Linked DNA regions of Homo sapiens: region 1 is linked to region 2. The links come from fine-mapping of genetic effects on gene expression. A gene starts in region 2. The other region holds a variant in brackets. All regions are shown on one strand. Distances are between the middles of the regions. Region 1 overlaps CZ1P-ASNS (CZ1P-ASNS readthrough). Region 2 holds the start of ASNS (asparagine synthetase (glutamine-hydrolyzing)).

Evidence for each region.
Region 1: its variant is fine-mapped to the expression of ASNS in regulatory T cells (Bossini-Castillo 2019, PIP 0.95).

The regions. Positions count from the first base shown.
Region 1 is chr7:97,901,206-97,906,591 of GRCh38, reverse strand. The region is part of intron 7 of CZ1P-ASNS (CZ1P-ASNS readthrough); the gene reads left to right. It also overlaps a transcript of ASNS not described here. Among named protein-coding and RNA genes, the nearest start is that of ASNS, 31 kb to the right of the region's middle. The variant C/G (reference allele first, on the strand shown) is at 2,273.
Region 2 is chr7:97,870,247-97,875,632 of GRCh38, reverse strand. It overlaps ASNS (asparagine synthetase (glutamine-hydrolyzing)), which reads left to right and starts at 3,225. Exons shown (of 13, transcript NM_001673.5): 1 at 3,225-3,282. All of the region lies in intron 7 of CZ1P-ASNS (CZ1P-ASNS readthrough), which reads left to right. RefSeq lists silencers at 2,994-3,083, 3,394-3,503 and an enhancer at 2,629-3,344.

The sequences.
Region 1 (5,386 bases), 31 kb before region 2:
TGGGAAGACTGGGGTCCTGATGGGGAGTTTGGATTTCACTGTGTGTAGCATGGAGAATCCTTGAAAATATTCAAGAGGTGAAAATTGTATTTGTGGAAGAACACCAGGAGTATGTGAAAAGATAACCACTCACTCCATTTTAGCTCCACTGAAGGGGGCATCAACTGGATGCACTGGGGACATGGGTTGGAGGGTAGTTGAGGCCATATCTGGAGGATCTTTACTTCTAGGCTGAGTCTGAAGTTATCTTTCTGGGGAGTGGGAGATTACAAATCTTTGAGCTCCACTCAAGAGATGGTTTTGCTAACAATGGCAGGGCGACGGTGGTGGTGGTGGTGGTGGTGGTGGGAAACTGGTAGCATGAATTCTAACTGGGCTTCTGTTATTCTAGCCGAGAAAATTGGGGAATGGACTTTCAGTAGAATAATACAGATCTGGGAATCAACTGCATGGAGGAGGTAGTTATAGGTGATGAGATGTCTCAGGGACAAAGTTTGGTAGAAGGAGAAAAGATACTAGGCTAGTACAAAAATAATTGCTGTTTTTGCCATTACTTTTAATGGCAAAATCGGCAGTTACTTTTGCACCAACCTAAGAGGATGCAAACTTCATAGCCATCTGCATCAGAGGGATTGATGAAGATCAACAAAGTTTAGGAACACAGGAAAGGAGCGGGGAGGGTAATGACTTGAGGGCATAGCAGGGATAATCAAGGTTTTTCTTGTTAGCATGTGGAGACTTAAGCATGATTATATGTTAAACACCTGGCACATATACGGTGCAAAATATTTATGAGTGAAATGACAAGTGAAGGTGGTGAGTCATGGGAGTTCCAAGGGAACGGATGATAAAGGCAGGTCTCAAATGAGGCACAAGTGGAGAAGGTAGCTTGGAAAAGGAGAAGGATGCTTCTCCTTATAACATGGGAAAGGCAGAGGAAGAGGGTCAAGATACAGTGATCTAGGGGTGAGATGGAAGTGAGTTGAGAGAACTCAACTCTGGGCTCTGAAACCCCTAGGGATGGGTGTTGGGGGCTTTGAGATATGGAAGAGGTTTAAAGTCAATTGTTATAGCAAATATGGTTTGGAATTTATTTGTGATACTTAAAAATATTGCTGAACAGAAGTGAAGTCTACCCTAGAGTTGGATGGTGAGATTATTTAGTGGAACTACCAGATCCATGTTGTGATTCCTTCCAGTATCATTCAGCAGCCCTTGGGCAGTTGCGAGGCAAGTCATCAATGGGGTATGGAGATTTTCCAGGTGGGTGTGGTTGAAGAAAGGGAAGAACAAGTTTAGGAGCACATTACAAGAAGAAGGTGACTGTAAGGTCCAGGCTGAGCAGGAAGGTAAAGCAAGAAGGAAACATGAGGTTGTGAAGAGAAGTTTAGAGGGATGAGGAGGCAGGAGAGGTGAACAGTTGCATGATGTAGCTAGAGTGGCGATGTTAGATCTTGGGGCCAGAGATCTTTACAATGATTATGAAGATCAAAGGGCATTAGAATCAAGCTATAAAGAGCCACTGTTTGATGTTGGGATGTGAGGATGCTGCAGGTGGATGTCTGCACATTGATGGTGAGAACATGGTCATCCTGGCCCTGCTGGGTCTTTGCTAAAGAGACTGTGCTCTGTTCTTGGGGCCGTTTTCATCATCTGATTAGAGCAGTGGTCCCCAAATGGTGTTCTTTGGACCATCTGTATAAAATGTTCATAGGTCAAGGATAAAATGGAAAAACAGAGAAAATGTCACAGAAATGTGCCTATTGTTGAAAGACCACCAGCTGTCGTTTTTGGAGGATTGTTCTTTATTCTAAAAATGTATATATTCTATTCTATTAAAACATTTTTGTATTTGCATTTTTTCTCTTTTATGAAATGCCATGGGGTAGAAATTTGTAATGTATCCAATTCTCCTGTCTTCATGCATTGCCCTGTGGTGGGGGAGGGGATGTGGCTAGTACTGGCCAAGAGGCTGGGGGCAGAGGTGCAATGTTAGACTTCTAGCCTGGAGCATTTAATTCTTAGTACAAGACTCTCTAGCATTCTTCTCCCTCTGTTCCCTGCTTGGTGATACTCGAGGTATTGCAACCCCCATTAACCTTAGTCTTAGGGCAAGTTTGATGGGAAACAGAGCACCCCACACCTCCCTGCAGATGTAGCATGAGTGAGAAAAACAACTTCTGATGTTTGAAGTTACCAAGATTTAGGAGTTGTTTGTTATTGCAGCAAAACCTCACCTATTCTGACCAATCATGGTGGAATTTCTCTCTCT[C/G]TGTGTGTGTGTGTGTGTGTGTGTGTGTGTGTGTGAAACTGGTAGTTTAAAAAAGTTCCTTCTTACCCAAAAGAAAAAAAGATAGCAACCTTATGTTTGTTCTCAAATTAAAAAAATATTTTTACTCGTTTATAAAATAGAAAAATCTGAGAATCTGTAGCTTAGAGAACTACAGTGTGGGATGTCTATAAAGACCAGGTTATTTTATCAGCTCCTAACACCCCTTAATAGAAGCTTAGCCAAGACTTGCACTACTTCAGTCTTTCCCATTCCACATTCCATGGACTCTTGAAGAGACATTGATTAAACGGTGCAGCCATGAACCACCCTAACTCAATCCTAGTGGCAGAACCCCCCTTTTACTGCAGAATGAGCTTCTTGCTACAGTGATACTGCAACCCCTTAGATATATCCTGTACTAATTATATTAAAACACGACCAATGCTTTTGCTTTGTTGTCCCCCAAATTAAACACATTAATCATGAGAACCCAGAGAATTGGATTTAGTGTAACTGATTCCAAACTGTCAGTAAGAACATAATTAAGTTATATTTTTCTCCAATTCAAGTAAAAGAAAATTGACAATAAAATGCTGATCAATATGTGTAGCTCACGAGGTAGAGCCTGCTTTGAGATGCAGAAGTGTTTGTTTTTTTTAGATCTATATTCTTGAGTAAAGAAAAAGTCCATCTCTCTTTCCTAGAGGGGAAGACTTTCAGAGCTGGGCTTGGCAACAGCCTGACTATCAGAGGCTGAATTAAACAAATAGGTACCTCCCTGGAGTGAATGGTGCGTTTCTCCTGTTCGGGGAACCGTGCTTTTATGGTGGAGTTTGTGTTCTGTCTTGGTCTCCGGATGTGTGTATCTGTGGGTGGATGTCTGCATGTAAATGGCAGTGTATACCTGTGTAGGTGTGTACAAAATTCCCATGTGAATCTCAGCTTTGTGGGGATCTCCGGTTCTTGAGCCCAGTAGATGCCATTTGAAGAAAAAAATCACTTGAAAATGAGACAGAAAGAATGGAAACTAAATCCTAGCTCTAAAGGCACCAGGCTGATTAAAAAAAAAAAAAAAAACTCTGGATCTTCTTTGTTTTGGACTCTACCTACCTCTAAATGACATTTCTGTTTCCTATGAGATGATTAGAATGAAAAAGATCCTGAGCACGAAAGAGCAGATACTGTGTGATAGTGTGTATGTCAGGGTGTCAGCTGTGACACTGCTGACATTTTGGCTCAGCAATTTCTCTGTTCTATGTGTGGGGGTTCCCTGTGCATTTTAGGATGTTGAGCGTCATCCCTGGATCCCTGCACTCACTGGATGCAGTAACACAACTCCCCCCAAGTAGACACAACCCCCAGTGTCTCCAGATATTGCCTAATGTCCCCAGGGGGCAAAATAGCCCCATCTGAGAACTGCTGCTTTCATAAAGTACAATGTCAGGTGAAATAGGTGGAGGCTGTTTGTAGTCAGGGGTTAGTAGAGATGGAAGAGACCCCAGGAATATCCTGGAAGGGTCTGTAATATTTTGTTTCTTGAATTGGGTGTCAGCAATATGGAGATGTTCAGTTTTTTGTTGTTGTTGTTGTTGTTGTTTTGAGGCAGGATCTTTCTCTGTCACCCAGGCTGGAGCACAGTGGCACCATCATGGCTCACTGCAGCCTCTGCCTCCTGGGCTCCAGCAGTCCTCCCACCTCAGCCCTCCCGAGTAGCTGGGACTACAGGCATGTGCCACCACTGTTGCCTAATTTTTTATTTATTTATTTTTTGTAGAGAGGAGTGTCTCACTATGTTGCCCAGGCTGGTCTCAAGCTCCTGGGCTCAAGCAATCTGCTCATCTCGGCCTCCCAAAATGCTGGGATGACAGGCATGAGCCACTGCGTCTGGCCAGTATGTTCAGTTTGTAAGAAAAGTACTGTGTTGACCTCTTCTATGTGCACATTTCTTTAAGTAATAATTCAATAAAGCATTTAGAAAAATTGGTCGTAATAGGAGTGATTTGTAGAGTGATTGGCATGAAAGCTGATCACCTTAATTTGAACTACTCTGAAATGAGCACCAGGGGCCACCAAGAGGACCCTTTCAAGGTGTCATAGCCAAGGAGAGGAGTGTGTTGTTTACATCTCTGCATAAAGGATTTGCTGGTTACATGGAAGGATGAAGCCTCCTTCTGAGGACAGAGGCAGCAAAGCAAGTGGAAGCCCAAAGCATTGAGCTTTCCAAATGGACTTTGCTGAAATCTTGTGGATGACTCATGCTCTTAACATACACCCATGTACATATTGTCCATATACACATTAATTCTGTAACAAGGCCCACACTTAAGGGTTTTTTTTTTCTTTTGAGACAGTCTTGCTTTATTGCCCAGGCTAGAGTACAGTGGCATAATAGTGACTCACTGCAACCTCCACCTCCTGGGTTCAAGCAATGCTTGTGCCTCAGCCACCTGAGTAGCTGGGACTACAGGTGCACAACATCATGTCTGGCTAATTTTTGTATTTTTAGTAGAGACGGGGTTTCACCATGTTGGCCAGGCTGGTCTCAAACTCCTGGCCTCAAGTGATCTGCCCACCTCAGCCTCCTAAAGTGTTGGGATTACAGGTGTGAGCCACTGCGCCTGGGCCCACACATAAGGTTTGAGTTGAGATAGAGAAACTCTGGCAGGACTGAGGAATTGGGCCACAGTCTGTGGGAAATATGCACAATTTCTGGAATCTTCTATACTTCCAGAGTTCTCACTCTCTGTCTCCTGTTTATTCAACAAACTTGTATGGAACCACAGTGTGTCTAGAACTTGCCAGGTGTGGAGGATAAAAAGATGACTGAGATCGGGCATGGTGGCTCATGCCTGTAATGCCAGCACTTTGGGAGGCCAAGGCAGGCGGATCACTTGAGGGCAGGAGTTTGAGCACAGCCTGGCCAACATGATGAAACGTCTCTACTAAAAATACAAAAATTAGCCAGGCATGGTGGCATGCACATGTAGTCCCATCTACTTGGGAAGCTGAGGCAGGAGAATCGCTTGAACCCAGGAGGCAGATGTTGCAGTGAGCTGAGATCACATCGCTGCATTCCAGCCTGGGAGACAGAGCGAGATTCCATGTCAAAAAAAA
Region 2 (5,386 bases):
GTCACCTCCAGGTGGAAGTGTTAAGAGGCTCTATGATCCACCACATTCCGTTTCCCCTGAAGGGTGATCAAGGACACATGCAGAGATGGGGCTTTTGTCAGCCTGGATCCCTGAGTGAACACAATGAACAGACCACCACACAATGCCCTAACACAGCCCAGACATGCAACGTGACCAAGAATAAGCCTCACTGTGGCCAGGCATGGTGGCTCATGCCTGTCATCCCAGAACTTTGGGAGGCCAAGGCGGGTGGATCATTTGAGGTCAGGAGTTCAAGACCAGCCTGGCTAACATGGTGAAATCCTGTCTCTACTAAGTACAAAAATTAGCCAGACAGTGGTGGCATGGGCCTGTAATCCCAGCTACTCAGGAGGCAGGAGAATCACTTGAGTCTGGGAGGCAGAGGTTGCAGTGAGCTGAGATTGCACCACTGCACTCTAGTCTGGGTGACAGAGTGAGACCCTGTCTCAAAAACAAACAAATACCTCACTGCATGGAGCCACTGAGATTTGGGGATTGTCGTTACTGCACCAGAACCCAAATCATCCTGACCGCTAGGGTGTCCTAACTAGGGTTTCTTCCCAAAAGCAAAGGCATTTTTAAAGTTCGTGACATTTAAACAAAAGAGCAAATACCAATATCTACCACTTCGTCAGGCTAACAAACCCAAACAAAGCCAACAGCCAGAAGTTAAAATAAACAGATCATTAGGTTGAAAATAGAACTGTCAAAACAGGCACAATTGACTTCATTTAGTGATTGCAAAGAACATCAGGCAAGACACACGTGTGGTCATCATAACATTTATCACATGCTTAATTGCACATGTTTGACTAAGAAAAACACAAAGTATTTAAGCTCATCTGTAGTTCAAAGTGCCTATCCGTGTATTTATCTATTCATCCTGATGTATTTATTGAGCAACTCTTTTGTGCCAGGCACTGTGCTGTGTTGCGGGAAGTCAGGGACCCCAAACGGAGGGACCAGCTGAAGCCATGACAGAAGAACGTGGATTATGAAGATTTTATGGACATTTATTAGTTCCCCAAATTAATACTTTTGTAATTTCTTATGCCTGCCTTCACTGCAATCTCTAAACATAAATTGTAAAGATTTCATGGACTAAACTTATCACTTCCCTAATCAATACCCTTGTGATTTCCTATGCCTGTCATTACTTTAATCTCTTAATCCTGTCAGCCGAGAAGGATGTATATCGTCTCAGGACCTGTAATAATTGCGTTAAGTACACAAATTATACAGCATGTGTGTTTGAGCAATATGAAATGTGGGCACCCTGAAAAAAGAACAGGATAACAGCAATTGTTCAGGGAATAAGAGAGATAACCTTAAACTCTGACCGCCGGTGAGCCAGGCAGAACAGAACCATATTTCTCTTCTTTCAAAAGCAAATGGGAGAAATATCGCTGAATTCCTTTTCTCAGCATGGAACGTCCCTGAGAAAGAGAATGCGCACCTAGGGGTAGGTCTCTAAACTGGCCCCCCGGGGCGTACCTGTCTCTTATGGTCGAGACTGCAGAGGTGAAATAAACTCCAGTCTCCCATAGCACTCCCAGGCTTATTAGGAAGAGAAAATTCCCACCTAATAAACTTTGGTCAGACCGGTTGATCTCAAAACCCTGTCTCCTGATAAGATGTTATCAATGACAATGGTGCCAAAACTTCATTAGCAATTTTAATTTCACCTTTTGCATCTCCTTGAAATGTCTGCCTTTGCACACTCTCCCTGAAAGAGGAGGGCAAGGGAGCCAGGATAGAAAGTGAGGTGGAGAAGTGTAGAGCTCTGGACGGACAAGCAGGAGATACGCAGCACAAGGAAGCACACTAGGTAACACACCAAGCAGGGGAACCTGTCTTTCACTACATAGGCAAGATGCTACGGGAAATGGGCTCTGGGTTTACACAGATTATGACTCAGTTCTCTACTGTTGTGAAGCTGTGTTTGGATAAATCCCTCAACTTTTCTGAGTCTTATTTTTTCATTTGTAAAATGTAGATAGAAGACCTACTTTCCCACATTGCTCTCAGGTTTAAAGTACGTCAATTAGGATACAGCAAAGTCTGTTTGATACTGAAAACTTTCCAGCAACAATGAACCTTAGAACAAGTCATCTCTCATCTTTGCTCTTGCCTGTAACTACTAAGCGACTACTCCATCTTCTGTTCTTAGGGATTTTAAATTGTTGACGTTTTTGATTTAGTCAGGAATGCGTTGTATGGGGATATCAAACCTGCATGCTCTCCAAGCATTGACTGTAGTCTGATCTTAGTAGGTCGTGCACATATAATTTTACTATTTCTCAATTTATTTCGGTGCTGATGTAATTAGTAAAATACGATTTAAGAGTGTTATGATACTTTTTAAAAATCGTGATGTCTTTTCTTCATCAAAGAGATACTTAAAAGCACATAATCATCTTGTGGAGGCAAGTTGACAAAATCCTTTTTGAGATTCTAAAAGGAATCTTTGTACTTAAAATGTTTAAGGACCACTGATGTATTTTGGCTTCATGTATCAATTAGATTTAGATTTTATTGTTTTAGAGATGGGGGTCTCCCTTTGTCGCCCAGGCTGGAGTTGAGCTCACCTCAGCCTCAAACGCCTGGGCTCAAACTATCCTTCTGCCTCAGCCTCCTGAGTTGCTGGGACTACCATGGTGTGCCACCAATTTTTATAGAGATGTGATCTCGCTGTGTTTCCCAGGCTGGTCTTGAACTCCTGGTTTCAAGTGATCCTCTTGCCTTGGCTTCCCAAAGTGTTGGGATTACAGGCGTGAGCCACCGCTCCTGGCCCCGATTTATTAATAGATCTTATAAGGACATTTTAGGCCTCACGCATCAGTTTCTTAGGACAAGCTTTTCTCTGCACTGCATAATAAATCAGACGGCAGTGCAACAAAAAAACGGTGATGATTTCCCGAAGAACAAACCAAGTTCAGAAGCCTCCCTAATTGTCAGAACAGCAGGTAGCCTGGGCGGAGCTCTGAGGCTATCCTTAAACAGGCGCACTGAGACGCAAGGCGCTGGAAACAAAAGAGCTCCTCCTTGCGCCCTTCCGCCGCCCCACTTAGTCCTGCTCCGCCCCGGACACCCCGCGGCCCCGCCCCTGTGCGCGCTGGTTGGTCCTCGCAGGCATGATGAAACTTCCCGCACGCGTTACAGGAGCCAGGTCGGTATAAGCGCCAGCGGCCTCGCCGCCCGTCAAGCTGTCCACATCCCTGGCCTCAGCCCGCCACATCACCCTGACCTGCTTACGCCCAGGTGAGCCGGGTCCTGCGCCCCGTGCCCTGCGCCCCGCGCCAGCATCCTCCTCGCGTGCCCTGGGGCTGCTCCGGAAGGAAGGGGTGGAGGATGCGGTCTTCAGCCTGGCACCCGGCAGACGCGGTTCGCGGGCGCCTGCTGATGCTGCGGCTCCTGCGGTAGGGAGGGCGGGGCGGACGCCTAGCGATTGTTACGCACCTGACAGCTAGCGGAAGGACCTTTCTGTCCTGGTTCCCTGAAGCATCGAGAGGGAACCGCGGCCGGCAGGCCGGACCGCTCCGGAGAGGAGGCAGCGGCAGTTTGAGCCCCTGTAAATGTTATATGTGTACTTTTTTTTACTATGTGGCGTCGAAGCCTGTGGACATTTTCGCGGTCCGGGTCCCTGCGGCGGACGGGTCGGATCGTGCTCGTGGCCAGGGCGCAGTCAGGTGTCGCGTGGTCCTGATCTAGGAAGAGACTGCGGCCTTATCACCGTCTCGGTGTCTGCTTTCACCTTCAACTGCCCCCCTCCTCACCTGGACCGCTCACCCTCCTCCTCCCCTCTCACCCCGCCATCCCCACCAGTCCCCACCTGTCTCTGTAGACTGCAAGACTCATCAAGTGACTTGCTGAGCAAACCCTGCCGAGAAGAGGTCTGTTTAGGGACACAGGCGACCAAGTACAGAAAAAGGCAAAAGAACTAGCATGCCTTTTTCAATGGCTGTCATTTTGCAGGGCTGGCTTCAGATGATTGTTATAGCTTTAAATAAAAAGGACAGTTTTCATCTCGGCCCGTGGCCTACATTATTTCTTTACTGTCCATTGCCCTGGGCGCTTGACTAATAATTTAACAGCAGTTTTTTTTTTTAAATTTTAAATCATGATTCATAGCATTGCTGTAAGAGTAATTAGAGGTAAAGTAGGGCTTGAACCTGTCTGTAGTTGGTTACTTACTGAGATCTTAATATAAAAGTAAAGGGAGAGGGTGAAGTTGTAAGTAGCACTAAGTGGAATAGAAATTAAATGCACTGAAACTGCCATGTCCAGTTCGGTAGGCGCTAGCCACCTGTAACTGTTGAGCACTTGAAGTGCTGGCTAGTCCTAACTGAGATGTATTGTGTTAAATACACTGGATTTTGTCGTTGGAGTAGGAAGAACAGTGTAAAATATCTGCTCGATAATATTTTATATTGATTACATATATGTTAAAATGTTACTATTTGGGACATACTGAGTTAAGTTTATTTAAAATTAATTTCACCTTTTTCTTTTAATGGGGCTACTAGTATATTTAAAATTACATATGTGGCTTACATATATATTTATTGGACAGCACTGTTCTAGAAGTTTAGGAAGAAATAAGAAAAATATTGAGAACAGGTAGCGGCAGTAGGAACTTTGCCCTCCTATAAGACTGATTCCAATAAAAATAATAGGTTATAGTTTTAATTGGCTTTTTCCTACTAGAAAAAATAAGTGTACTTTACATGCCTCTTTGTTCTCCCTTTTTCCCCTCCAGTTTAGTGGTTAGAATGTATTTATTATAGCAGGATTAATACAGGGATTCACTAAGCAGCGTTAAGAAGACTTAGGTAACTGATTCCCTGATGACCATACTTGATTTTCAAAGCACTTTCCTAACCCGTTTTAAATTGATATAGAGTCAAAGGCAGATGGCTTATTAGTAGTCATCTCATTTAAATCTTATGGAATTTTTCCAGTAAATCTCAAATAATTTGTTATAGGCTATTTGGGCTATTTGGTCAAGTGCATGGAAGAGACAGCATAGGACATGTGGTACTTCATTTCCAAATTGCTTGAGATGATTTTCATTCTAACCATATATTATTTGGTTCTGGTTTTCCGGAAAAGCCAGCTAAACCTTTGGTTCTTTTAGATATAAATGAAATATCATCAAAGAATAGCTCAAAGTGACTTATGCAACTTGAATGTATATTTTTTCCTTAGGGTGTTTATCCCAAACTATTTGGGCATTTGCTGCAATTCGCAGTTTTTTTAAAAAAAACACCAAAATAGTTATTTTTCAAGTTAGAGATGTTTTAATTAAAACATCTTGTTTTTGGTGTATCCATTGACATTCTCAAAACGGAATGTATCTGGACCT